Homo sapiens: one gene and its partners. The protein of the gene in region 4 interacts with the protein of the main gene of each other region in a pairwise test. Each region holds a gene or a part of one and is shown on either strand. Other genes may lie near its edges.

Region 1 (7,375 bases), on a different chromosome or scaffold from region 4:
CTAAGTTGAGGATGTATAGACTGGTAGGAAAGGACTTTGGGTGCCCATTAGTCCAGAGGGAGCCCCAGAAAGTGGCCTTAAAACACTTGGAGTGGGTTTCACTGTCAGAGATGCCAATTACTACATACAGAAGAAGCTTTCCATACTGACGACTGGGCACCAAAGTAAGTCAGAGGCCTGGGATACTCCCAGAGTAGGAGCATCTCAAAATTAAACTGTCTGGATTGTCTAGCCATCTAAATTGTGTTTATGACGGCACACTGTGGGCAGGTCACTGTTCTGGGACTAGTCAGAACTCCAGGTGATTTGGAGTAGGGTAGTGGGACTCAAGAAAATAGAGGCCGGGAGCTGTGGCTCACACCTGTAATCCTAGCACTTTGGGAGGCCCAAACAGGTGGTTCACCTGAGGTCAAGAGTTCAAGACCAGCCTGGCCAACATGGTGAAACCCCATCTCTACTAAAAATACAAAAATTAGCTGGGCGTGGTGGCGCCAGCCTGTAATCCTAGCTACTTGGGAGGCTGAGGCAGGAGGATCGCTTGAACCCAGGAGGCAAAGGTTGCAGTGACCAGGATAGCACCACTGCACACCAGCCTGGGCAACAGGAGCAAAACTTCATCTCAAAAATAAATAAATAAATAAATAAAAATAGAGTGACAGAACTTGGGGACTGATTGGTTGCCAGATGACAAGGTTACTCCAATTTACACTCCTTTTAATTCTTCCCACCTCCCACCCCAGGGCCCTATATGGGAATGAAGGAAGAATCCCATTCCGGCTCCAACAAGACTCATGTTTTTCAGACTGGTAAACCTGGAGTGAGGGAATGGCTTGCACAGAGCAGTGGCTTGCCCTGGGTCACAGTGAGACAGTAAGAACAGGGCTTGGCTTCAGCTCACCAAGACTAGAGCAGCAGTTCCCAACCTTTTTTGGCACCAGGGACTGGTTTTGTGGAAGACAATTTCCACGGACAGGGGATGGTTTGGGGATTACTCAAGCGCATTACATTTATTGTGCACTTTATTATTATTAATGTAACGTTGTAATATATAATGAAATGATTATATAACTCACCATAATGTAGAATCAGTGGGAGCCCTGAGCTTGTTTTCCTGCAACTAGACAGTCCCCTCTGGGGTTGTTGGGAGACAGTGACAGATCATCAGGTATTAGATTCTCATAAGGATGCCAGGCATGGTGGCTGACGCCTGTAATCTCAACACTTGGAAAGGCTGAGGCAGATGGATCACCTGAGGACAGGAGTTTGAGACCAGCCTGGCCAACATGGCAAAACCCCGTCTCTATTAAAAATACAAAAAAATTGGTGGGCGTGGTGGCTCACGCCTGTAATGCCAGCACTTTGGGAGGCTGAGGTGGGTGGATCACGAGGTCAGGAGATTGAGATCATCCTGGCTAATACGGTGAAACCCCGTCTCTACTAAAAATACAAAAAAACTAGCCAGGCATGGTAGTGGGCGCCTGTAGTCCCAGCTACTTGGGAGGCTGAGGCAGGAGACTGGCATGAACCTGGGAGGCGGAGCTTGCAGTGAGCTGAGATCACACCACTGCACTCCAGCCAGGGCGAGAGCGAGACTCTGTCTCAAAAGAAAAAACAAAAACCCACACCACCATACCCACTAACTCTGAGGCTTTAGTCATATAAAGAAAAATAGCCATTATATATTGTTCTTTTGTGCTCTTATAATGTGTAACCATGCCCTTTAATTAAAGAATTCCAGGATCTACAAAAAAAAAAGAAAGCAGAAAAAAGAAGCCAGGCGTGGTGGCTCACGCCTGTAATCCCAGCACTTTGGGAGGCCACAGTGGGGGGATCATGAGGTCAGGAGTTCTAGACCAGCCTGGCCAACATAGTGAAACCCTGCCTCTTCTAAAAATAAAAAAAAAAAAAAAAAAAAAAAAAAACTAGCCAGGCATGGTGGCAGGTGGCTGTAATCCGTCTCAAACAAAAAAAAAAAAAAAAAAAAAAAAAGAAAGAAAAGAAAAAAGAGGCTGGGCGCTGTGGCTCACACCTATAATCCCAGCACTTTGGGAGGCCAAGGCAGGAGGATCGCTTGAGCCTAGGAGTCCAAAATGAGCTTGGCCAACATAGTGAGCTCTCCTCTCTGCAAAAAAAAAAAAATTAGCCAGCTGTGGGGGTGCACACCTGTAGTGCCAGCTACTCTGGAGGCTGAGGCAGGAGGATCACTTGAGTCCGGGAGTTTGAGGCTGCAATAAGCCAAGATTGTGCCAATGCGCTCCAGCCTGGGCGACAGAGAGAGACCCTCTCTCAGAATGACTGACCAACTGAATAAATAAATAAATAAATAAAATAAAAATAATTCTAGGATCTGGCCTTAGGAGATCCAAATTATCCAACCAAGGTTGTGGAATGTCTCATCTCAGGAAGAAATGCTGAAAACTTCATTTACAGCCTTGTTGCTGACAGCCAAACTACCAGGTAGCCCAGTACTAAAGATAATCATTGGCTGGGCGCGATGGGTGGCTCACGCCTGTAATCCCAGCACTTTGGGAGGCCGAGGTGGGTGGATCACCTCAGGTCAGGAGTTCGAGACCAGCCTGACCAACATGGTGAAACCCCGTCTCTACTGAAAATACAAAAATTAGCTGTGCCTGGTGGTGGGCGCCTGTAATCCCAGCTACTCAGGAGGTGAAGCAGGAGAATAGCTAGAACCCAGGAGGCTAGATTCTAGCTATTCTGAGCCGAGATTGTGCCATTGCACTCCAGCCTGGGCGACAAAGGAAGACTCCGTCTCAAAAAAAAAAAAAAAGATAATCATTACAACAGGATATGCTGACCTTCATACCCCACCCTCATGAGCTTTGTCCTGCCCAGCCTGTAAACCCTACACTTGATATCACTTTCCGTGCTTTGCCCAATAAAACATCTCAACCAGCTCTTTTCGGAGAGTCAGGGAATTCTCGCTCTCTTGTGCTGCCTCCCTTATACCCAGGCATAAGCTCCAATGAAGACTTGTCTGGGAAAACTTTTTTGGCCTCATGTTAATTTCTGTTGGATTGAGAGCCTAAGAACCCCTGGTAACAATAGGGAGGTAGTGGAACCGGGTTGTCCGGAGGGATATTTTCACTTTTTTGGATGCACTTGTATCTGCAGTTTTTTACAACGAGCATATATTAATGTTGTAATTATGTGTGTGTTTGTGTGTGTGTGTACGTGTGTATGTTTTTTGTTTTTTGTTTTTTTTTTAATTTGAGACAGAGTCTCACTCTGTCGCCCAGGCTGGAGTGCAGTGGCGCGATCTCGGCTCACTGCAGCCTCTGCCTCCCGGGTTCAAGTGATTATCCTGTCTCAGCCACCTGAGTAGCTGGGACTACAAGTGCACACCATCATACCCGGCTAATTTCTGTATTTTTAGTAGAGACGGGGTTTCACCATGTTGGCCAGGATGGTCTCGATCTCCTGACCTCGTGATCTGCCCACCTCGGCCTCCCAAAGTGTTGGGATTACAGGCGTGAGCCACCGCGCCCGGCCTTGTTTGTTTTCTAAATATGTAAAGTCAGAAATTAACCCAAGTAACGAGCATACATATATATGTGTGTGTGTGTGTGTATATATGTATATATATGTGTATGTGTGTATATATGTGTATATGTGTATTATGTGTGTATATGTGTATATATGTGTATATATATGTGTATGTGTGTGTGTGTGTGTATGTATATATATGGAGTCTTGCTCTGTCACCAGGCTGCGGTGCAATGGCGCTATCTCGGCTCACTGCAACTTCTGCCCCCTGGGTTTAAGCGATTCTCCTGCCTCAGTCTCCCGAGTAGCTGCGACTACCAGCGCTCGCCACCACGCCCGCTAATTTTCGTACTTTTAGTAGAGAGGGGGTTTCCCCCTGTTGGCGAGGATGGTCTCGATTTCTTCACCTCGTGATCCGCCCGCCTCGGCCTCCTCAAGTGCTGGGATTACAGGCGTGAGCCACCGTGCCCAGCCCTAACGAGCATATATTAATGTTGTAATTATATGTGTCTGTGTGTGTGTGGTTTTGTTTTCTATATAAAGTCAGACGAGTGTGTGTGTGTAGTTTTGTTTGTTTTCTAAATATATAAAGTCAGAAATAAACCCAAGTAACCCAGCCGCCTGGGCCAGGTGGTATCTGGCCCGCCCCATTCCAGCCTGAACTCCGCCCACCGCGATCCGGAAGCCTAGCGCCCAGTGGGTTGCAGGAAAAACCCGGAGCTGAACACACTGCCCGACCCGGGCCGCTGCGCTCGGGAGCCTGCGCAGAAGCCGTCGGAGGCGCATGCTCTGTAGCGGTCTCCGCAGCCAGGATTGGCGCCCGCGCGGGCCTTCGAGCCCCGCCCGCAGAGCCCCGCCCGCAAAGCCCCACCCCGGTGCGCGGGTATGGCGGCCAGCCTGTGGATGGGCGACGTGAGTGAGGGCAGCCGTCCGGGGTCTGAAGACAAGGAAGCATCTCGGTTTCGCGAGAGAGGAAGGATCTGAGTGGGAGGGGACTTGGGATCCCAGAAAGGGGAGACGTGTGACGGGGGTTCTTTTTGGTGACACAGAAGCGGGTTCCAGCATCTAAGTGAAGAGGCTGAGTCCGTGAGGCTAGGGGTCCTGGGGCCCCACCTGGGTTCGTGGGAGGGAAAGGTGGTGCTTTGGGGACATAGAATGGGAGCAATCCAAGGACTGAGGCGCGCTGTTCTGGGACCGGAGGAGTGGGGTTTCTAGGTCCAAGGGGAGGCTCCCTAAAGCGGGGCAAGCTTGAACCAAAAGAGCTGGGGTTTCAGGCCGCTCAGTGGAGGCGAACCTCGCCCCTCGCTCCCCCAGCGGCGCGTAGCCAGCCCTGGGCTGAACGGGAGGGGCTCTGGAACCCGGAGTGGGAAGCCCGGCCGCCGGCCTGAGCCGCTGTGCTCTTGTTTTTACGCAGCTGGAACCCTACATGGATGAGAACTTCATCTCCAGAGCCTTTGCCACCATGGGGGAGACCGTAATGAGCGTCAAAATTATCCGAAACCGCCTCACTGGGTAAGTCTCATCTCAGGTCTCTCTTAATACATCTCGTTGCAGCTGTCATGTACGAGAATGTAAACATCGTAGTCATGGCTTCTCACTACCCCTAGTAATAGTCACTGTAAAATTATAACAGCTAACATTTTGAGGTCCCAATGAGTGGAAGGATGGCATGTAGCTTAAGGGTAGGACTTGCCAGGCGTTGTGACTCACACCTGTAATCCCAGCACTTTGGGAGGCTGAGGTGGGTGGATCACCTGAGGTCAGGAGTTTGAGACCAGCCTGGCCAACATGGTGAAACCCCGTCTCTACTAAAAATACAAAAATTAGCCGGGTGTGGTGGCAGGCACCTGTAACCCCAGCTACTCCGGAGGCTGAGGCATGAGAATCACTTGAACCCGGGAGGCGAAGGTTGCAGTGAGCTGAGATCGTGCCACTGTACTTCAGCTTGGACAACAAGAGCAAAACAATGTCTCAAAAAAAAAAAAAACAAAAAAACAAAAAACGCAGGACTCAAGCGAGACTGGGTTTGAAAGCTATTTCTACTCTATGACCTTGGGTAAGTTACTTAACTGCTCTGTCTCATTCACTTTGAGTATAAAAATGGAAATAACAGCACCTACCTCCTAGAGTTATGGTGAGGATTAAATGAGTTAATTCACATTCATCATTAGGACAGTGTATGGCATATAGCATATGCTCAGTAAGTATAGTCAGATTACGATCTGCTGAGTAATAAGCAGTTTACATCCATTATCTCCTTAAAACCTCAGAAACTTCTGAGGTAGGTAAATACTATTATGAAGAGGCTTAATAACTTGAAGAGTTACAATAAATAGCCGGGCGCAGTGGCTCTCGCCTGTAATCCTAGCACTTTGGGAGGCCGAGGCAGGCCGGATCACGAGGTCAGGAGATTGAGACCATCCTGGCTAACACGGTGAAACCCCATCTCTACTAAAAATACAAAAAAAATTAGCTGGGCATGGTGGCGGGCACTTGTAGTCTCAGCTACTTGGGGGGCTGAGGCAGGAGAATGGCGTGAACCCAGGAGGCGGAGCTTGCAGTGAGCCGAGATCGCTCCACTCCACTCCAGCCTGGGCGACAGCTGAGACTCTGTCTCAAAAAAAAAAAAAAAGAGTTATAATAAATAACAAGTCAGGACTTGAATTCGAGTCTATCCTGAAAGCTCATGAGGGCCCTTAACTCTTATGCCATTCATTTAAAAAATTGTGGAGGATGGGTGCGGTGCCTCATGCCTGTAATCCCAGCACTTCGGGAGGCGAGAAGGGTGGATCACCTGAGGTCAGGAGTTGGAGACCAGCCTGACCAACATGGAGAAACCCTGTCTCTACCAAAAATTAGCCAGGCGTGGTGGTGCATGCCTGTAATCCCAGCTACCTGGGAGGCTGAGGCAGGAGAATCGCTTGAACTTGGGAGGCAGAGGTTGTAGTGAGCCGAGATCGCGCCATTGCACTCCAGCCTGGGCAATAAGAGCGAAACTCCATCTCAAAAAAAAAAAAAAAATTATCTGTGGAGATACTACTGTGTTCTACTGTTATACATTCCTGGCTGAAATAATCCAGATATAGCCCCTGCTCATGGAGTTTACTACATTCTAGTGGGGAATGAGACAATAAATAAGTAAACATAACCAAATGCGTATTTTCAGATAGAGGTTCTCTATTGCCTCCATGTTCTTCTTTCTCTTTGAGGTCTTAGTTTTCCTTAGGGAATTATCAATTTGTCAGTGTTTATCAAGCAGCTACTCTTTTCCTTTTTTTTTTTTTTTTGAGACGGAGTCTCGCTCTGTCACTACCCAGGTTGGAGTGCAGTGGCGCGATCTTGGCTCACTGAAAGCTCCGCCTCCTGGGTTCACGCCATTCTCCAAGCAGCCACTCTTTTCTCGGTACTCTACTACATGTGGCTTGCTAAAACATCAAATGGTTTAAAAATAGAGATGAGACATTTGAAAGATACTTTGTGTATTCAGAACCCCATTACCTAGGAAAAGGTTTTTCTGACTGGTAGATCGTGCCCACCTAAATATTTCTCTTCTTGCTCTTCTAAGCAGAAAACCCCAGATAATCAGCTACTGGTATGAAAATTCATTCTGTAACCTTTCTCATTTTTTTTTCTTTTTTTTTTTTTTGAGACGGAGTCTTGCTCTGTGGCCCAGGCTGGTGTGCAGTGGCACGATCTCGGCTCACTGCAAGCTCCACCTCCTGGGTTCAAGCCATTCTCCTGCCTCAGCCTCCCAAGTAGCTGGGACTACAGGCGCCCGCCACCACGCCAGGCTAATTTTTTGTATTTTTAGTAGAGATGGGGTTTCACCATGTTAGCCAGATGGTCTCAATCTCATGACCTCGTGATCCGC
Region 2 (7,024 bases), on a different chromosome or scaffold from region 4:
AGTGAGGGTCTCACTAATAAGGTGACATTTGAGCAGCAACTTAAAGGATGTGAGAAAGCAATGCATGCAGATATTTGGGGGAATATTTTCCACACAGAGAGAACAACTGCAAGGACCCTGAGGCAGGAGTGTGCTTTATGGGTTGGGGCCATTGTGGCTGTAGCACAGGGAGGGAGACAGTGGCAGTATTTCAGTCTGAGAGGTAGCACGGCCGCTGTGAAGACTTTGGTTTGTCTACGAGACAGCCAGCCAGCCAGTGCAGGGACTGGGAGTAAGGACTGACAGGACCAAGTGTAGATTTTAAGGATTTTTCCAGCTGGCCATGTTAAGAATAGACTGTAGGTGGGCCTTAGACACTAGCAAGATCGACAACTGGGAATGAGAATGAGGGAGAAGGTAGGGAGGTTTTAGAAGAGAAAGGTGTGCGATAGTCACCCAGGACAATGGGAGACCGAGTGAACTTGGGAAGTCTAGTAGAATTGCCAGAGTTCACTTGGAGGTGGTGGTCACTATTAATGGCCCTCAAGTTAAACTCCATATAATTTTGTATTTTCCCCCAGTCCTGTTACTCTGTGCAGATACAGCCACTGAGTGGGTGGGAAGTTTATTTAACAAGGGTTAGGTATTGCCAAGAGAGTGCAATGAAGTCAAAGAGGACTCAGGGATTTGAGTGAGTGCAAGAGAGAGAGTATAATAATGACCGTGCAATCTAAGTTGGGTGGTGAAGAAAGTGCTAACATGAAAGGGGTGCTAGGTAGTGAGAGGGTGGTAGGACAATGGATCACAGATCTCAGTGGTGCCAAAGAATTGCTGGTGTTGGAGCACTGGAGGAAGTGAGCTAAAGGGATAAAGATTATATTAGTTAGGTATACTAGTGAATGAAACAGGTCTCAGGAATGACATACATCTATTTCTCACTAGCGTAAGAACTAAAAACTATTCTGCAGATAGTTCTCCTCCATGTGGTAATCCAAGGACCCAGGCCTCTTTCATCTTGGGGCTCTGCCATTCCTTAGGGCCCGTGATCATCTGTGTACAGCTAGCAGAAGAGGAAAATAGAAATCTAACTTCTTCAAAGCCTGGGACCAGATGTGATTCTCACCATTGCCACTTACGTCTCATTGGCAAAAACTGGTCGCGTAGCCATCCAGCAAAAGGTGGCCGGGCAGCCACTTCTCAGAGATAGCTACGCTACGGAAGGGGTAACATACATTTTTTTTGGCCAGTTAGCCATCTCTGTTATAGAGGTGGTGATGAGACAGTGGGATGCTTGTAATTCTGATCATAGAAGGATTGTAGCTCTTGGTCTAGAGAATGGCCACAGGGACCATTGGCTGAATTAGGAGAGGACAAAGTTATTGGAGGAGTGGTGGGCCAGATGTGAGAGACCCTACGGGGACTGGAAACATGGGTGTTGGGACCAGCAGGAGTTATGCCTGGAGAGGCATACCGCATGGAGAGGGTGTTGGAGAGACAGTGAGCCAGGGCTAAAACCATCAAGCACTAGGGGGACGACTGTAACATAGGGACGGGGTGGGGTGGAGTCTTTTCCTCAGAGAAGTGTTGCCTGTTCCTATGTCCTTTTATTTTTTCTGACCTTAGTTTCATGGCCTTCAAGAAAGTGACACTCTTGTACCACTCCTTTCCCATTGCACTCCTCCAGACAGGTTTCTGAGTAGACCAAGGCCACATCCTAGGCATCTGGTAATGTTTCTCTAAGAAATCCCGGTACTTCTTGGATTTCTGGAAACCTCTGGATAGTTTCAAAGCCATAGCTAGCCTCCTGCATTCGCCCTCTTTTGGTAACCCTTCACCCACATAGGCACGTGTGTATGCAGGCTCCCTCTCTCTCTCACACACACACTCTCATACACACACATACACACACCATTCACAGACACACGTAAACACACCCATACACACATTCATGCACGTACACAAACACACACATTCACACACATACACTCACACACACATACATACACACTCATACAAACACACACACACCCTCTCCACTTCTCCAATGCTTCCATCTTGGTTCTTGGCTCTCCAGGTCATAGTTAGTAACATCGGTCTGAACTATACAGCCCCTAGGGAGCCTCTGGAGAAAGACTGATCCCATAAAAGGGAATTATGAGAGGATAGGAACAATTATAGAATAGTAAAACAGGCATAAACTTTAGCAGGATAAAAGTAGGGTAGGTATTAGGAGGAATTTTCTAATCAGAAGTCAAGATCTTTGGACTTGAAGTAGTTTTCTCTCTTTTTTTTTTTTTCTTTTTGAGATGAAGTTTTGTTCTTATTGCCCAGGCTGGAGCGCAATGGTGCAATCTCGGCTCACTGCAACCTCTGCCTCCCAGGTTCAAGCGATTTTCCTGCCTCAGCCTCCCAAGTAGCTGGGATTACAGGTGCCCGCCACCACACCTGGCTAATTTTTGTATGTTTAGTAGAGATGGGGTTTCACCATGTTGACCAGGCTGGTCTTGAACTTCTGACCTCAGGTGATCCACCCTCCTTAGCCTCCCAAAGTGCTGGGATTACAGGCATGAGCCACTGCGCCCGGCCTGAAGTAGTTTTCTCTAAGAATTTTTTAGAAAGAATTAAACAGCATCCTGTCTGAGAGAAACATTGTACAGAGAGAGCCTAACTCAGAACCAAAGGCCCTCAAAGGACTTTTCAAGATGCCTTTTCTCTAAGACCCCATGAAGGGAGAAAACCAAACTGTGACTCTCACAGACCTGCTCTTAGAAAACCTAGGCTCTTAAAGACTCTAGGCTTTGGTTCACATCCCTCCTGTCATCTAAGGAGGAGAAAGACCTTGGGCATCAGGGGAAGCCATGCCTCCCCAAGGTCAGTACAATTTACACCTCGCTTGACTGCGGATGTGTGAAAAGAGATGCCTCAAATGAGCCCCGGCGTTCACATTCTTAGCAAAGAGTCAGATTGCGCCTGGGTTGGGTTGAGAGGCGATTGGAGAGCATGCTGCTGACCTGCTGACTGGGCATCTGAAGCTGCCACACTCTCTCCTGCCACCTCTGCACGTAGTCAGCTGAGTTAGCCTCACGTCCATACTCTGCCCTCCCACAGGGAGCCGGGAGCCTGCTGGGAGCAGAGGCCTCACCTACACATCCTCAGAGTCCATTCTAGAGACTTAAGTTTCGTCATCTTGTCAGGAAACCCACTGATAAGCAGAGAACCGGCAATGGAGCCGTCCAGGGAGGGAGAGACTGCCGTCCTCGCGGGCAGCCTCCTTCCTTGCTCTCGCGGGCAGCCTCCTTCCTTGCTCTCTGCCCAGCCAGGATCCCCTCTAGATCCAAGGGCCAGTCTGCTCCTCTTCCTCTAACTCCCACACCTTAGCTTATGTTCCACATAAACCCATTTCTTTCATTTTTCTCTTTAGTTCAGGTGTAAGAATGCTAACATTTTCCCAGGTGTTTTTCTAAGAAACAAAAGAAACACTAGGTGGAAACACATACATCAGCTCACAGCTACCCATAACAGCCCATTCCCTACCTGAGGTCTCAGCAGGGCGGGGCTCAGCGGGCACTTCTGTCAGGCATGAAGGCCTGGGTTCCTCTCCCCACCTCAACCCTTTGCAGTTCTTGGGTATGTCTAGCCCCCGCCTTCCCTCTGGGCCTCCTCCCTCCAGGGGCAGGCCACTGTCCAAGCCCTGACTATGGTGCTCATTGCTGGGTGGACACTGGTGGGCAAGACACAGCTAGTGCTCTGAGAATGGGTCCTTCAGACACACAATCTTAGATGGGGAGGCAGGAGTCTCTGGTGCCAGGCACGTCGTCACAGCTAGCCGGGAGGTCTCCAGAATACCGGCTTCTTTCTCGGAGCCCTCTTGCTCCCAGCATCCTTGTTCTGGTGCTTACAGGCCCTTCCTAATGCCGACATTCTGTAGGCAGGCGGCACAGGGACAGCAGAGCCAGCTTCTCTCCAGCCCTCTCCCCAGCAAATGTAGAAAGGGTTATTTCCTCCCCCAACAGTGGGGAACCAAGCCTGACAAGATGAGGTTTTGACCCTCCTTTCCAAGTACGGCCCTCTTTTTCAAAACACTATTAAGTCATATCCGCCCGTCTTCAACTCTTTGGTTGCTTGCCAAGATGGCCACAGGAGAGAAGCCCATCACACAAACGCTTCTTCTGTTCTTCATGTCCCGCCCCTCCCAAGCCACCAGAGCCCAGCCGAGGGCAGCCACAGCAGGGTCACTCAGCCGCCTGCAGCTGCTGCATCTATGCTGAGGCAGTCAAGACCTGAGCAGGGCAGGGAGGACGGGCACTCAGGCCCATCAAGTCCCCTCGTCACATATTCCTGAGGTGCAGTCTAAGACAGGCACAGCCCAGGTGAAAACATAAGCCACACAGCACAGAAGGAAACTGCAGAAACCAAACGGACCGTGTGCACTGTACATTGCCATTGATCTTCATTTGCAAAGGTCTCGCGACCTTGAGATTATCATGGGGAGACTCAGAGTGAAGTTCTCTGGACAATGCTTGCTGATTGAGCTGGAGGAAGGACACAGAAGAAGCTCTGTTTCAGTTGCGTCACTTACATGTTTGTGTTATGTAATGTATGTATTTAAACAGTTCATCTATAAGTAAACATACATATGTCATAGTGAATGCTCAGGGAAGTATTTTCACAGAAGTGTGTGCTATCAAAGAGTCTGGAATCCACTATCGAGCAGTCATGCTGTTTGCCACAGGAATGTACCAGGGGTGAAGTTCTTCCAACTGCCAAGAATGAACTGTGGCAAGAATCCTGGGTTGTTGGGAACTGAAGCACTATCACATTCTACTGAAGATAATATCAGCCAGGCGACTGCCTGTGCCTGAGAAAGGAGGAGACAGCAGCCAGGAAAAGGCCAGAAAATGGTGTCTGTCTCAGCCAGGCCCCCGAGGGAACGCAGGTGGAATGTTTGTGCTTCGGCAGCTGAGACAGTGTGAGGCATCCCAAGAGGAGAGAAATGATACCTGGTCAATCTCCAAACCTACACTCAGCACTTTTCCAAGCATTTCCTGTCTTCATCCTGGAAGCCCATACACATCATCTAATCTCTACTTCTCACTGGGACAGACCTGTGAGATCAAAGGGAAATGAGTGGTGGACCTAATCTGTCCCAGAATCTGTACAAAATGATCCTCTGCAAACTGGAAGAAGACTGTGCAGGCGCCCGGGAGCAGAGTGGCCATGCAGAGGAAGGGACCCAGACACGTGCTCTGTCTGCAGTGACATCAGTGTTGTCTCCGTGGGCGGCTGGGAGGTCAGGGTGTTGACTCTGCCTGCAGAATGGAGAGCATTCTCCTGAGACCCACACCTAACTGGGAGGTCAGGATTGACATGGAAAGTGGCCTTGATAAAAGGAATGGTATTAAGGACAAATGTAGAAAAGGGTGGAAAGACAAACCACACAGACCAGGCTGGTCTGTACACAAACAGAAAAATAAAAATGCCTCCATCAGGATGGAATGCCTCCAGATGATGGAAAGTCAGTACTTGAGAGTTACAAATTAAGAGAACTGTCAGACTCGCACTCCAGTGTTCCTTCTGCTGAGACTTTAATGTTTCCCGGGGTGTTCCTTAAGCCAACCCCTCATCCCCAAATCCCAGCAGGATGATGGGAGCACTCTTCCCCTCCCCTCTAAGAAGGGCTTAATTTGGTGACCGATTCCTGGGCCACTCACCCACAGCAGGCAGCTGGATGCAGGATTTACTTTCTCTGAGTATCCATCTCCTATTCTCTCTCTTTCCATCACTCAGAGCACCCCAAGATCTGGCTACCTCGGGCCCTGAGGCAGACCTACATCCGGAAGGTTGGGGACACAGTGAACCTACTAATCCCATTCCAGGTGATCATGCCAGCCCCATACTGGGTCCATGTCTGGGGCCAGTGCAGGTTTTGGATTTGGAAACAGATACCAAGAGTCCTGCTAGCAGAGGGGCAATCTTCCCAGCCTTGGATAGAAGGGGTCACACCACCAGAAGTCTGAGGCCAAATGACCTCTGCACTCCTGAAGGTGGGTTTGGATAGGACTGGGTGTGCACCCATGAGATGGTGTGAGGCTAATCCATGCCCTTCAGTCTACAGAAGCCTCAGAGCTTGCAGTTAGAAGGGTTCTTGGGAGTTTGAGTGGCTATTCAATTGGTCCCAGCTGCCCCGGGTGTTCATGACCTAAGCTCTCAGAGATTGGGAGACTCAAAGCCATCCCTCTTTCCCAAGATCCTTAGGCTGTTGCTGAAAGGAGGAGGCCCCCGGGAGGGTCCACCAACTTCTAACTCAAGGAATGTGCAGCTCCAAGTCAAGCCTCCCTGTGGACCTGGGGTGGACAGGACCCCTACAGCAGCAGGGAGAGTCAGGAAGCCTCTCGGGGCTGCTCAAAGCATTACCCTCATTCCTCAGGGCAAGCCCAAACCTCAAGCCATCTGGACACATGATGGCTGTGCCTTGGACACCAGGCGTGTGAGTGTGCGGAATGGGGAGCAAGACTCCATCCTCTTCATCCGAGAAGCCCAACGTGCTGACTCAGGTCGCTACCAACTCCGCGTGCAGCTGGGTGGGCTGGAGGCCACCGCCACCATTGACATCCTGGTGATTGGTACGGTGGGGGAAGTGGGAGATGGGGGGGTCCTCAGGAACTCCCTCTCCAGGCTGAAGAGGAGCCAGCTCAGAGAGCTGGGGAAGCTGCGGCAAGGCTCCCACGTCATGTCTGGGACACAGGGTGGGCGCAGGAGGGGTAACTGAGGAGAAAAAGGGGCTAGGGCACTCCTGAAGTGACTTCAATGCATGTGGGATGTTCCACGCCCACTGCCATGGCTTTGCCCTTTCAGAGAGGCCAGGCCCTCCTCAGAGTATTAAGCTGGTGGACGTTTGGGGCTTCAGCGCTACACTGGAATGGACACCGCCCCAAGATACGGGGAATACAGCACTTCTGGGATACACGGTGCAGAAGGCTGACACAAAATCCGGGGTGAGGCCAGCTGGGAAGGAAGGAGGGTGGAAGAGGGCATGTTGGGACAG
Region 3 (7,256 bases), on a different chromosome or scaffold from region 4:
GCTGAGTAGAGGGAGGAGAAGCCAAGGGCAACCCAAGGCCATCTCACCACTACTCCGAGGAATGGTCCATGGAGACAACAGATTCAAGAGCACATATAATGCAAGTTCCTTGATTCATGCTGTCTATTGGCTGGGAACTTTGAGCTCTTCCTTGGAGGAGGGAGGGTGATCAGGTCAAGGAGGTAGGAACTTAGAGAACGCATTTGGTATGCTGCTGGTATGTAGAGAGAGAGTCATTCTATCCCTCTGGCTATCCCTTCCAGGCCAGCTTTTGCCATGCTTCCCTTCTTTCCCTCTACCCTGTTTCATGAGTAATCTGAAAGGCTTCGTATACTGGGTAGAGGGTGGGGAGGGAACTGCAGTCTGGGTGGGTTGTCACCTCTCTTACTATCCCAGAGCCCTGGTTATAGTTTCTAGAATTAATGAGCAACGTCATTGAGACCCGGGGCTCAAAGGAGCCAAGCAGTGATGACAGTGAGAAAGCATCAGTTCAGAAGGGACACGTCTTTCCTCTCTGAGCCTCCTTTGTTCCCACCTGGTCCTGATCCTCCCATAAAGGAGGGTCACACTGATAGGTCATCTGACCTTGCCTTGCTGCTGGCCTTACTAAGACGTCGCTTGTCACTATGATAGCCATGGGGAAGGCGGTGACCTGGTGAGACTCCATTGGGCACCTCAGGCTTCTGGCCATAACGAACCTGGATGAAACCTTCCCCAGGAGTCTGCTCCTGACCTCGTACTTGCTCGGTGACCAGGTTGTCTGTGTTTTGTTGGGAGGCCATATTATTGCTGAAGGGATTGAAGAATTTTCCCCCAGGGCCATTCTCCAGGCACTGATTAAAGTCGGGGGGTGGTGTGCAGCTCTGGACTATGCCCACAGAGGGGCCAGAAAGCTGGCACTTAGCCATGTGCTGCCGCGGTTTGACAAATCGCTGTCTGATCTTCTTCCAGCCCAGGTGGTAGAGTTCAGCCAGGCTAAGGAGGAGGGACAGTGCAGCCACAGCCAGCATAAAGACAATGAAGACATTCTTCTCTGTGGGCCGGGATACGTAACAGTTGACCGGGTGGGGACAGGGACTCCTGCGGCAGACATGCAGGGTGGTCAGGAAGATTCCGTAGATGAAGTACTGGCCCACAATGAAGCCCACCTCCATGGTGGTGCGGATCAGGATGCTGCACACATAGGTGTTGAGCAGAGTGCCCTGGAGGGCAATCCTTCCATTCCCTTCCTCCCAGCAGGACAGTTCTGCCTTCTCTGCCACCGGGTACTCGTAAGAGCCAGAGCCCCGGACCTCTTTGGCCCTCTCGGCCTCCCGTAGCTTGCGCTTCTCCTGCATGCGCACAGTGTGCATGGCGTGGCCCATGTACACCAGAGAGGGCGTGGAGACGAAGATGATCTGCAGCACCCAGTAGCGAATGTGGGAGATGGGGAAAGCCTGGTCGTAGCAGACATTCTGGCAGCCAGGCTGAATCGTATCACACCGGAAATCAGCCTGCTCATCCCCCCAGGAAGACTCAGCAGCTGTGCCCAGCACGAGCATACGGAATATGAAGAGGACAGTGAGCCAGACCTTGCCTACCACGGTCGAGTGCTTGTGTACTTCCTCCAGGAAATTTCCCAGGAAGCTCCAATCGCCCATCTTGGCACAGCCAGGGAACAGATGCCAAAACTTCTGCAAATGGGAGAGAGAGAAAGAGAGAAAAGAAGAAGGATGTTCTGTGAAGGTCTGGAATGTCTATCATGTTCTGGGATTCCACTGATCCATCCATCCAATGGGTTCTTTAAGAAAATGCAACTTAGAAGTCAAAGCAACCAACGAAAAGCTCGCTCTCCTTTCCCAGCAAAAATAAAAAGAAAGAGAAGATTCAAAGTAGCCATATTAGCAAAATTAGAGCATGGCTCCCACACTTTAACGGATCTAGAAATCGTGGTGTGTGTTACAATATGGATTCTGCTCTTGCCCCAGTAATTCTACTTCAGGAGGTCTGGGATGGCCCCCAGGAATCTGGATTTACAACAAGCAGCCCAAGTAATTCTGATGCAGGCGGTGAGGGACCGCACCTGGAGAAACACGAGTATTAAAAAGAACACAAGACTGGGGTCTGCAAATGTGACTCTGGGCATTTACCTCACTGAGTCTGTTTCTTCATTTATCGAATGGGGATGGGAATAGCTACACCAGAGAATTCTGAGGATTAAATGATATGAGGTGTGTGATATTCTGAAAATCATTCCACAACTGTTCCAAATGTTTAAATGGCTGTTGGATGGAAAAGGAATTTTTTTATGGCTCCAGAGGGCAGAACTAGGTGGAGGAGGAAAGAGTGAGGATGGGATTGGCAAATTTGGCCCCTCAGGAAGCACTCTGCAAAAATCAGAACCATCCAGCATGGACCAGCTGTGTTGGGAGGTGGCAAACAAAAAGTGTGCTTTGGTCACACCAGCTAACAGTATCACAGATGAGTGCTCACTTCCCCTGGCTGGTAAGGCAATGTTGATCTCCCATGCCTCGGTGCAACACAGCCATTCCAGCCACACAGCTCAGCTCGCCCTGCTGCTAAGTTTCTGTGTCTCATTTAAATAAGGTTCCCACACACAGATCTGCCCACCCTTATGTCCAGAATAAATGTCCCAAAACTTTATGTCCCTTACAAAATCCTCCCTCATCTGGCCTTTGTCTGCTTTTCCAGCCTGTTCCTGCCTGTCCACATGAGTTCCTTTTGTCCAGCCATGCCAAGTCTTCCCAAATGCCCTCCTTCTGTACCCCTACATGTCCCCTCACCCCTAGCTGAATCCCATTTACCTTTCAAAACTTAACCCAGTCATTGCCTCCTCCAGCCCTCCCTCCTCCCTCAAGCTGAGCCTCTTCAGCTCCTGTGATGGCCCCCGGGACACTTACTCGTCTCCCAGTGCTTGCTGCCTTGTGTTGTAATCCTCTGCCTGTCTGTGTTCTCCCAGGAGGGACTGTTTGAAAATGGAGACTGTCTTTTCTTCTGTATCACCAGAGCCTGGCCCAGAGTAGGTGTTTAATATATCTTAGTTGAGTGAATGAAGGAGGGGCTGACAGGCACTGTTGTTTCCTACCCAATAGAAAACCAATTCCCTGTTTCTTGCCTGCCTCCCATTGGCAGGGTGAAAAAGCCAGGTATCACTTTCTTAATCTCCTCTGCAGTTAGTTCTGGTAGGTGAGGTATGGGGAGAATCTAAAGTAGAGGGAATGCTCCAGAAAAGGTTTTTCTACCCCCCAGTAAATGGAGAGAGCCTCACTCACAGTGCTCCCATCCCCCTGTGAACAAGAGGGAACCTCACTCACAGTGCTCCCATCCCCTGGTGAACAGGAGGGAGACTACTCACAGTGCTCCCATCCCCCGGTGAATAGGAGTGAGCCTCACTTAGCCCCACCGCTTCCTGCCTGTGGACAGAGTTGTATGAACCAAGATGTCTAAAGCTGTCCAGAGAATCTCAGAAATGTCAACCAGTGCCCTGAGGCCTCTGAAGCAACTCTTGAGGCTCCCTACCTCCAGAATTCTTACTTAGTGAATAACGAATGTTCTTACAGTTTAAGCCTCTAACCATTCCTAACCAACAGGATGACAAACGTCTCGGAGGGAATGGAGCATAAATATTCCTTTCTTAGAATCATAAACCTCAGATTTGGGTGGGTCCTTAGAGGTTTGTCAAATTCAAACTTTGACCGTCATATCTTTGCTGCCAACGTGCTCCTGGTTTCTGTCTGAACATTCTTCATGCTTATGGGGAAAGATGGGGTCAGGGTGGTGCATTTCATAGTCCAGGCTTCCTCAGCTCTTGAGTTGATTGTTGCCTTGACAGGGACCAACCTCCTGGCCCTGTATTCTCTCAGACCCCAGGTCCCCAAACTTGAGAGTATACAGTGTCCCTGGGAATGAGGGAGTTCCTGAGTGAGCGGAAAGCATCTTATCTCTGCTCCTCTCTATATCAAAGACCCATGCAGGTCTTGAGGCCTTTCCTGTCATTTGTGATCAGACATCTGCCCCATTTCCTTAGGTGGCGAAGCGCCCCCTCTTTCAGCCTCCAAATGTGGAAAATTGTGGAGCATGTGCTCAAAAGGAAAATGGCTGATTAGATAAGAGTTTGAATTGTCTGTCCTCTCTTCTGGGCACATGTACAGTGTTCAGCACCTTCAGGGTCAGCCACACACGTGCAGTGACTGAACTATGGTAAATGTCTGAGAAAAAGAGGGAGGGAGAGAAGGGGAGGAATAAAAAGAAGAGAAGAAAAGGGAAGGACAAGGGAGAGTTGGAAATGGAGAAAAAGACCATGTAGGGTTAAGAAAAGACAGATGCAGGAGTTAGCTTACTGAGGTTTGACAAATTTCTATTACCATCTGCTGGGCTTAGATAAATGATTCAATCTGTGTTCCACTTTCCTCACCTGCAAAATGGACATACTATTAACTCATAGAGTGCTATGAGATGATGCGTGCAAAGCACTTAACACAGTGTTCAGCAAATAAGAACTGAATAAAAGGTAGCCATTACTAGCAACAAGAGCAGTGGGGAAGGATGAGAGTAGAAGAAGGAGGGAAAAAGAGAAAGCAGAAAGTAGAGAAAGGTGCATTACAAAGGAGAAAAGAAATGGGAGCAAGAGTAGAAGGGGAGGAAATGAGAGGAAAATGGAAATAGAAAAAAAAAGAAACAAATGTCATATTCTTCCAGGATTTGGGGCAAGTTTTCCACACTCAGTCCCTGAAGACTTCTCCCTTGATCTTCTCACTCTGTCACTCATTCCTTGCAAGTCCCCAAGGAAGTATAAAAATAGTTCCAGGCAAAGAATGTGACCCTTTGGTCTAGTCTGCCAAGAGGCTTGACTGCTGACTCCTTCACTGCTGTCCAAGGAATTCCACCTGGAAGAGGTAAAGCACAGATACAAGAAAGGAACACCTTGGAAAACCAGAAAGGCAGTATTAGGAAGGATATCTTATTGGGAGGGAAAAAGAGAAACTATCTGAGGAGGTATAGGGGTGAGGCAGACCTCCTGGGCCCAGGCAGAGGAAATAGGGTGAAGGGTTTTTCATGTATGACTTCCTGCTGACGCTCAGGCAAGGTCAGAGAAACTTAAAATAGCTACCATGTACCAGATGCTCAGTTTATAATGTGAAAGGTCTCTGGCTGTAGTTACTTTTCCAGCTACGTTGGCTCCCTTTGGATACCCCATCTCAGCCAAAGAAATTTGTAGATTAGATACTCAGTGAGTTTACTGGGCGTATAGCATATAAAATACTTTGTAGATTATTATCTGCTTCTTGGCAGGAAGTGTATTAGGAGGGGCAAAGGAAGCTGCCCATGCCATGAATAAATGCTATCAAACACAATGGCAATTTACCTCACTGCTTTAGCAGTTATCCTCACTGGCTTCCTACCACTTAGAAAGTCCAAACTGCTTAACTTGCCATGTGAAACCCTGTACAGTCTTATGCTATCATTTTTCCACTTTTCCACTCACACACTCAATACTTAAGCTACACAATTTCACATGTACTTATGTGCATCTCACCATTTCTCACCCATTTATCTTGGCTTCTTATGTTCCCTCTGCCTAGAATGTCCTTTTTAAAATTCATTTAATACGTTTATTGAGTGGCTACAGGGTGCCAGCCATCATTCTGGACAATGAGGATACAGCAGGAAGGAGGGGAAACAAACAAGGGATTCCCTGACTTCACTGAGTGTAACTGCCTTTATACCCCTTTATTAACAGCAGACATTAAATACATGATTTCAGTAAAACACAATGTGTGTTAACATAAAGGAAGTATAAGGTGTCATGGGAATGTGGGGCAGGAGCCTGAATCTGGTTTTTGGGTTTTGGGGAGAGTCCTAGGGAATTGCGTTCTAAAGCCCTCTGCCACTGATACAAGTTCTGAAATCAGCAAGGCAAAAAGAGATGGTCCCTAGAACCTGGAAGAGAACCATCCCAACTCTAAAGGTTCTTCACTCCCAAACCTTCAACATCCTCTTTCAACTTGTCCTATCCTGAGATAAAGCAAATTTTGGAGGGGCCACTAGGAAACTTGTTTGGCAATAGCAACATGGTGCTTAGATAAGAGGAAGAGGGCCAGAGGAAGGATTTTGTGTATAGTGAGCATGAATCATTTTATGATTTTATTTCATGTACTGTATGGCCAATGACCAGAAATAAAGCTCAGGCACCTACATTCTGAATCCAGTGCTTCTTTTTTTCTTTTTTGAGATGAAGTCTCGCTTTGTCACCCAGGCTGGAGTGCAGTGGCACCATCTCAGCTCACTGCAACCTCTGCCTCCCAGTTTCAAGCAATTCTCCCTGCCTTAGCCTCTGGAGTAGCTGGGATTACAGGTGTGTGCCACCACACCTGGTTAGTTTTTGTATTTTTAGTAGAGAAGGGGTTTCACCATGTTGGCCAGGCTGGTCTCAAATTCCTGACCTCAGTTGATCCTCCCGCCTTGGCCTCCCAAAGTGCTGGGATTACAGGCATGACCCACCATGCCCGGCCCAGTGCTCCTTCTCGTGGTCCCCCTACACGGCCAGTGTTTTTCAAAGAAAATCATTTCAGAGCAACCCAGATTAATCATAAACTCATAGCCAGAACCTCTTCCTCTGACTCCGCAAATCTACAGCAAAATGGATAAGTCTTCTAAAATTGACCTCAGCCCTCTTTGGTGTCCCCTGAACTCCAGAAGACTGAGCATCTGGTACATGGTAGCAATTTTAATTACCATCCAGCATGGAGGATACATCCTCACACTTGGTTATATATTTCCTTAGACTTGTTTTCCAAACATTTGTCTATCAGCCAACCTGCAGATACTTTGCTGAGTCCCCTTTATGTGCCTACCACTGTTCTGAGTAATGAGAACAGTACCAAAGAGGTGCAAGGCCTGACACACACTGGGCACTCAATGGTGTCTATTAAATTAATAAAATCGGCCGGGTGTGGTAGCTCATGCCTGTAATTCCAGCACTTTGGAAGGCCGAGGCGGGCAGATCATCTGAGGTCAGGAGTTTAAGACCAGCCTGGCCAACATGGTGAAACCCCATCTCTAATAAAATTCAAAAATTAGCCCAGTGTGGTGGTGGGCACCTGTAATCCCAGCTACTCAGGAGGCTGAGGCAGGAGAGTTGCTTGAATCCGGGCGGTGGAGGTTGCAATGAGCTGAGATCACGTCAGTGCACTCCAGCCTAGGCAACAGAGTGAGACTCCGTCTCAAAAAAAAAAAAAAAAAAAATTAATAAAGTC
Region 4 (7,011 bases):
AGTTAACTGCATTTCCCCAACTGATGACTAGTAACTACAGCTGCCTCTTCTGAATTCTTTCTTATGTCTTTTTTCTTTCAGATTAACAACTCTTTCTGAACCATGGGCTCAGGACACACCAAATGAGAGCTAGCCCTCTCTTATGCCCACCTCCTCACAAGCATCCCAAGATAGGTAAGCCAGTCACCTTTATGTCCAGCAGCCAATGACTATGCAGTGCAAATTCTAAGCATAGTATGTTTTTGAACTAGAATAGATGGCGGCTCACACTGATTTTGGGAACCTGGAGTCCAATTCAGAGTTCATCCTACAGCAAATTTCATTTGTACAGTGCTTTAGGGTTTATAAAAAGCTTTCCCATAATGACCTCATTTTGATTTTACAGTCTCACAACTCTCTGAAGTGGAACGACCATCTGCCATTATTCCCATTTCATATAAGTAGGACTTTTGGAGGTTAAGCGACTAGCCCAAGGTGAATCCCTGAGCCCAAATGCAAATCCCCAAGTGCAAGGCTCTTTCCATTGTCCTGCCCACCTATGAAGTGGAGAAAATGTTTACTGACATTGTTCAGGGTTCCCACTTGAAAAACATGTTTGTTATTGAGAGTCCACTACAAGCCGACATTGTGCTAGGGGCTTTATGTTCTCATAACTCTCAGGATAAAGTCCACACTTTACGCGATCCTGTACCGTCCAGCCCACTCTATCTTTCCTGCCAGACAGGCTTCTTCCCATGTCTATCACTGGTCAAGTCCTTTCCTGTCTGAAAACCTTTGCACAAGCAATTCCCTTTGCCTGGAATACATTTTCTTGGCTCTTTTATATTCAGGTCTCAGTTAAATGTCACTTCTTCAGGGAAGCCTTTACTGACATTCCCAACCTTCCCAAGCTGGTCTACATCATCCCACCCTCTCATCACACCCTTTAATTCCTCTCTCGTAGTAACCAAAATTTATGCCCTTGTCGGAGCATAAATGTATATTTGCTCTCTCTCTCCAGCTAGCCCATAAAATCTCGAGGCTAGAGTCTATCTATACCCCTGTTACCTAGAACAGTGGCTGGCATATAGTAAGCACTCAATAAATGATCTGTTGAGTCCATGAGTAAATGAGAACATGGTGGGTTAAGAGTTCAGGATGGGTCAGGTAGACCTGGCTTATCAACAGCTGGGTGGGTGACCATGGCCAAGGCTTTTAAGCTCTCTTGTCTTGGGTTATGCATTTGTAAAATAGAGAAAATACTTTTTACTGTTTTGAGATGATTAACTAAAAAATTCACAGAAAGCACTCATATAAATGCTTGGCACAAAGAAAGCCCACAACAAGGTCAACTCATTCAACAAATACTTAGGCTAGGCATATAACAGAAAAAAAGCTATGGATGACACTTTTTTCTTTTTAACTGCTAGGATAAAATCTAAACTCCTTCAGTCTCTATACCATCTTCTATCTCTTGCCACTCTCTCCCTTAACCAAAATACTCCGGCCAAATCACCTTTTTTCCAGCTCTTAAGTTCTGCCAACCTCTTTTCTTCCTCAGGGTCTTTGTGAATGCCATTCTCTTTCTCCTGGGCTTCACTGGGTTAGCTCCGTCACATTCTGCTAGCCATAACTTTTTTTTTTTTTTTTTTTTGAGATGGAGTCTCGCTCTGTCGCCCAGGCTGGAGTGCAGTGGCGCGAACTCGGCTCACTGCAAGCTCCGCCTCCCGGCTTCACGCCATTCTCGTGCCTCAGCCTCCCGAGGAGCTGGGACTACAGGCGCCTGCCACCACGCCCGGCTAATTTTTTGTATTTTTTAGTAGAGATGGGGTTTCACCGTGTTAACCAGGATGGTCTCGATCTCCTGACCTCGTGATCCGCCCGCCTCAGCCTCCCAGAGTGCTGGGATTACAGGCGTCAGCCACCGCGCCCGGCCATGGCCATAACTTTTAAGTCACCTCCTCAAAAAGGGCTCTTCTGTCCACCCTCGTTTCCTTCTCAGCAGTTACAAAAATTTGCCTTTGTTGGCTTGTTTAGCAACTGACACTATCCAACTAGCCTAGGAGCTCCACGAGGGCAAGAACTGTACACTTCTGTATCCACTCCTGTATCCCTAGCGTCTAGCACAGTGCCTAACACAGTAGAAACTCAACTACGAGCTAAATGAATAAGCGATAGCTCGTGATTATGTAGCATTGCGTCTCACTACTCTCTGAACCAAACTGTCTTTAAATATTATGAGAAACACAGGCACCCCCGAGTTCCTCACATACTGCTCTGCCCAGGAGGAGAGCATTTTAGGTGACGGTAAGGGCAGAACTTACCAGGCAGGGAACGTCTCCCTAGAGGGCAGTTCCCCTGTTGAGAAAGAAGACATTATCGACGTCACCCAAGATGAAAAAAAAACCCAGCTTTTTCTTTTAAGTACACGCTCAAAGCTGTCCCAGTGGTGGTGACAGGTGAATCTCGTAACTCCGAAGGTAAATGCAACACACCGTGCTGGCAGACCCAATCAACACGCTGGGCCTGCCAAACTATCTCAACTTCCCAACGGGACTCATTAATACCCACTGATTTTAACAGAGCAAGACGAGACGGGCGCCGAATCCCGCCGGAGGACTCCGCCGCGCCTCCTCCCTAACTCTGAGTCAAGTATCTGGACGGGCGCGGCTCCCCAGCTCCCGCGCGGAGGGTGGGGTACAGCAGGAAACGTTCCCCGCAGGCTGCCTGGAGAAGGCAGGGGGCCGCTGGGCTCCGCAAAACGGTCCCGAGGGCAACCACGGCCCCGGGCCGCCCAGCCCGCGCGGCCTCCGCGTCCCAGTGCCCTTGGTGCCCGGCCCGGCCGGCGCGCCGCGCCCCTGCCTTCCAGGCCGCCTCTCTGCCCGCCAACAGACTCCTCACCCGTCGGGGCCCCGGCTCGGCCAGACCGTACCTTCTGGAAGGCGGAGAGCGAGCGGCTGAACGCCCGAGACACACAGCGGGATCGGGACAGCATCACGGCGGAGGAGCCGAGGGCGGGCGGACACCGGATATAGGGCCGGACAACAACCGGAAGTGGGGCGGGCCGCAGTACCCGCCGCCCGACGAGGGGTGTTCGGAGCGAACCACTGGCAGGGGGTGGGCGCACGGCGGCGCCCAGTATCCCGGCTGCAGCGCAGGAGTCCCGCTCTCTGGAGCAGGCAACCCTAAGGCGCTCTTGGGGCCCTCCGCACTGCCTGTCAGCCTGAGGTGGTTCTCCTGAAGGTGTATACGACTGTCCCGCCACCACATTGCCCCCGGGGTCAGGCCTTCCCCTACCCTTCCACAGAACTGGCTCTGAGCTTGGCGCCCTTCTCTCTTGGGACCCGAGGGCACCGCGCCGTTCCGCCTCTGTACCTTGGGAAGAGAGCAAAAGAGGGGCACGGACATTGAACTGAAACCTTGGCAGACATGCATGCCTGATCTTACACTTGTGTGGCCTGGGGCAGATGACATTGCCCCCCACCCCCAGTCTCAGGTCCCTTAACTATTAAAAAAAAAAAAAAAGGCACTTGTTACTTCCCTGTCTTCCTAACCCCGAGTCAAAGAAACAGAATCCCAGGAATTTCTAAATCCCATTGCCTTTTTACGAGTCGGATATCTTCACCAACTATAGCCTTATTTCTCAACAGCTTCTGATCTCCCCCCAACGCAAATTCCAGCCAAACTAATTGTTCCCCATACATCTTGTGCATTTTGGAAGTTGTTCGTTTGTCACCCTATCCCTAGAATATAAACTCCCAGCTGTTTTTTTAAGAAACAAGGTCATAGTTCACTGGAGCCTCGACACTCTGGGCTCAAGCGATCCCTCTGCCTCAGCCTCTGGAGTAGCTGGGACTACAGGTGCCACCATGCCAGGCTGACCTCCCCACTTTGAGTGTGCCATTCTTCCCGCTGACTTGAAGTGAAAGCATATAGCATCCCCTTCCCCTCCTTAAGTATTCAGGCCCCTTGAGTATTCACCTTTAAGGCTCACCTTCCTAATGAAAAAGATGTGCTTTAAACCTCTGGCTGAATTAGTAACACATAAATGTATGAATGAATGAATGAACCACTTGGTGCCGTTCATGATGATTTCTTTATCTGAGGCATTTTGCCTGGCCCTCAGGACCTTTATTTTTTATTTTTCTAATTAATTTATGTTTTAATATAAATTGAGACGGGGTCTCACTATGTTGCCCAGGCTGGCCTCAAATTCCATCAGGACCTTTACAGTGCCTTCACTCACCTGAACCCTGAAAGCACTGCCACTGAAATTCTGGAAGGATGGGCCAAAGTCCTAACTAGAAATAGAGAAAACAGCTCTGCCCTGCTGCTACCCACAATTAACTCCTCAGTAGCTTTCACCTGAATTATTTGAAAAGCTCCCTAAGCAGTTCTAAGCCTCCGCTCTCGCTTTCTCTAGCCCATCATCCTTTATATCTGTGTCAAAGATCCTTCTGAGCCTGGTGTGGTAGCTCACGCCTGTAATCCCATCACTTTGGGAGGATGAGGTGGGTGGATCACTTGAGATCAGGAGTTCAAGACCAGCCTGGCCAACATGGTGAAACCCCATCTCTACTAAAAATACAGAAATTAGCTGGGTGTGGTAGTGAATGCCTGTAATCCCAGCTACTCGGGAGGCTGAGGCAAGAGAATTGCTTGAACCCAGGAGATGGAGGTTGCAGTGAGCCAAGATTGCACCACTGCACTCCAGCCTGAGCAACAGAGTGAGACTTCGTCTCAAAAAAAAAAAAAAAAAGAAAGTAAAGAAAAAAAAGAAATCCTTCTGAAATGCAAACCTAATCCTGTCACTCCTCTGATTAAAGTCTTTCATTGCTTCTCCTGGTCGGATAAAGCAAGGGAGATAAAGTTTATCTCCCTTGTAGGATAAAGTACAAACTCCTCAACTTGGCCAGGCACCTGATAATCAGGCCTCTGATTATGTTCTGATTCTCTCCCCACATTCTCACAGATTGTGAGCTTTAGTCAAACCACACTACTGGCCATAGCCTTGCTGAGCTATTTGCATGGGCTGTTTCCTCCTCCTATTTGCCTAGGAACTCCTAGTCATCCTTTAAATCTCCTTCTTAATCCCTTCCTAACCCCTCTGGCAGAGTTAACAGATACATTTTCTATGCTTCCAAAGCACTGTGTCTGGGTTTCTACATTGCATTTTATTGTAATGTCCTGTTTACCTGTCTGTCTCCCATGCTGCATAGAGCAGCAGGTGGAAAGAGACCACTCTCTATTTTCCTGAATTTTCCAAACACAACACCTGGGACATCAGAGTTCCTGGGACTCTGTAGGTACTCAATAAATATTTGTGGAATGACTAAATACTTCCATGTTTACAACATTGGTGGACACAGCTGAAGAATCCAAGAACGGTAGTCAGGGGCTATGGCAATTTCTTGCCAGTGTTGCTGTTAATATTTTTCTTAGATAGCTACCCAGTCCTTTCACGGTCTTTTTTTTTTTTTTTTTTTTTTTTTTTTTTTGAGATAGAGTCTTGCTCAGCTGCCCAGGCTGGAGTGCAGTGGCATGATCTCATCTTGGCTCACTGCAACCTCTGCCACTCGGGTTCAAGTGATTCTCCTGCCCCAGCCTCCCGAGTAGCTGGGACTGCAGGTGCGTGCCACCATGCCCAGCTAATTTCTGTATTTTTAGTAGAGACGGGGTGTCAGACAGGGTGTCACTGTATTTTTAGTAGAGACAGGGTGTTGGCCAGGATGGTCTCAAAATCTTGACCTCATGATCCGCCTGCCTTGGCCTCCCAAAGTGCTGGGATTACAGGCTTTCACAGTCTTTAACAATTTTTGAGATTCTTATAGAAGGTGTAGAGGCTTCAGGCTGGGCACGGTGGCTCACGCCTGTAATCCCAGCATTTTAGGAGGCTGAGGCAGGCGGATCACGAGGTCAAGAGATCAAGACCATCCTGGTTAACACGGTGAAACCCCGTCTCTACTAAAAATACAAAAAATTAGCCGGGCCTGGTGGCGGGTGCCTGTAGTCCCAGCTACTAGGGAGGCTGAGGCAGGAGAATGGCGTGAACCCGGGAGGTAGAGCTTGCAGTGAGCTGAGATCATGTCACTGCACTCCAGCCTGGGTGACAGAGCTAGACTCCGTCTCAAAAAAAAAAAGATGTAGAGGCTTCAAGACTTCAAGCCTGGTTATAATGTGGCAAAGCACTTCTGGAGTTTTAGTGATCACCCAAGTTAATCTTAGATATTACAGTCTAAAGACACCACACACACACACACACACACACACACACACACACTCGAGCATGGTTTCATACAAAATCCCATTGAGAGGGTAAAAGTTGAAATTGATTTCCTCGAGATTCACATACGAGCTTCCATGGACTCCAAGCTGCAACCCAATAAGCTAGGGCACTCCTTCATTTAGAGCTTCCCAAGACACAGCACCATCTACTGGGGCAAGAGTTTATGAATATAAATTGTGGCAGGGCTCAAAAGAGAATTTTTTTTTTTTTTTTGAGTGGAATCTCACTCTGTTGCCAGGCTGGAGTGCAGTGGCATGATCTTGGCTCACTGCAACCTCTGCCTCCTGGGTTCAAGCGATTCTCCTGCCTCAGCCTCATGAGTAGCTGGGACTACAGGCGCCCACCACCATGCCCGGCTAATTTCTGTATTTTTAATAGAGACAGGGTTTCACCATGTCGGCCAGGATGGTCTCGATCTCTTGACGTAGTGACCCCTCCACCTTGGCCTCCCAAAGTGTTGGGCTTACAGGCGTGATCCACTGTACCCGGCCCAAAAGATAATTTTTAAAAACATTTTCATTGTAAAATACGTATTAAAAAGGATATAAAAATCTATGTGTCCAGTTTAAAAGAAAAATAATAAAAGGAATTCCCATACTTGCTGCCCAGCTGAAGGAATGGAAAAGTTCCCTGTGGTCTCCTCCATCATCACACCCAGTTAGCCACTACTATACTGAATTATATATTAACCATCCCCTTGTTTTCATTATAGCTTCAATATGCTTATGTTCTATACACATTTTTGC

What was found.
Region 1: the proteins of DLST (region 4) and TRNAU1AP interact in binary tests that used the Homo sapiens proteins (3 or more experiments, as listed by UniProt).
Region 2: the proteins of DLST (region 4) and MYBPHL interact in binary tests that used the Homo sapiens proteins (3 or more experiments, as listed by UniProt).
Region 3: the proteins of DLST (region 4) and GJA5 interact in binary tests that used the Homo sapiens proteins (3 or more experiments, as listed by UniProt).

Annotation. Positions count from the first base shown.
Region 1 is NC_000001.11:28,548,722-28,556,096, forward strand, and holds the start of TRNAU1AP (tRNA selenocysteine 1-associated protein 1), read left to right. Parts: upstream 1-4,363; 5' UTR 4,364-4,389; coding exon 4,390-4,416; intron 4,417-4,918; coding exon 4,919-5,016; intron 5,017-7,375. UniProt on the Homo sapiens protein: Involved in the early steps of selenocysteine biosynthesis and tRNA(Sec) charging to the later steps resulting in the cotranslational incorporation of selenocysteine into selenoproteins. Stabilizes the SECISBP2, EEFSEC and tRNA(Sec) complex.
Region 2 is NC_000001.11:109,297,000-109,304,023, reverse strand, and holds part of MYBPHL (myosin-binding protein H-like), read left to right. Parts: intron 1-5,766; coding exon 5,767-5,855; intron 5,856-6,406; coding exon 6,407-6,602; intron 6,603-6,834; coding exon 6,835-6,974; intron 6,975-7,024. UniProt on the Homo sapiens protein: Myosin-binding protein which plays a role in cardiac function. Seems to regulate conduction in the atria and ventricular conduction systems.
Region 3 is NC_000001.11:147,757,599-147,764,854, forward strand, and holds the start of GJA5 (gap junction alpha-5 protein), read right to left. Parts: upstream 3,005-7,256; 5' UTR 2,901-3,004; intron 1,674-2,900; 5' UTR 1,641-1,673; coding exon 564-1,640; 3' UTR 1-563.
Region 4 is NC_000014.9:74,877,917-74,884,927, reverse strand, and holds the start of DLST (dihydrolipoyllysine-residue succinyltransferase component of 2-oxoglutarate dehydrogenase complex, mitochondrial isoform 1 precursor), read right to left. Parts: upstream 3,013-7,011; 5' UTR 2,975-3,012; coding exon 2,912-2,974; intron 2,338-2,911; coding exon 2,304-2,337; intron 1-2,303. UniProt on the Homo sapiens protein: Dihydrolipoamide succinyltransferase (E2) component of the 2-oxoglutarate dehydrogenase complex. The 2-oxoglutarate dehydrogenase complex catalyzes the overall conversion of 2-oxoglutarate to succinyl-CoA and CO(2).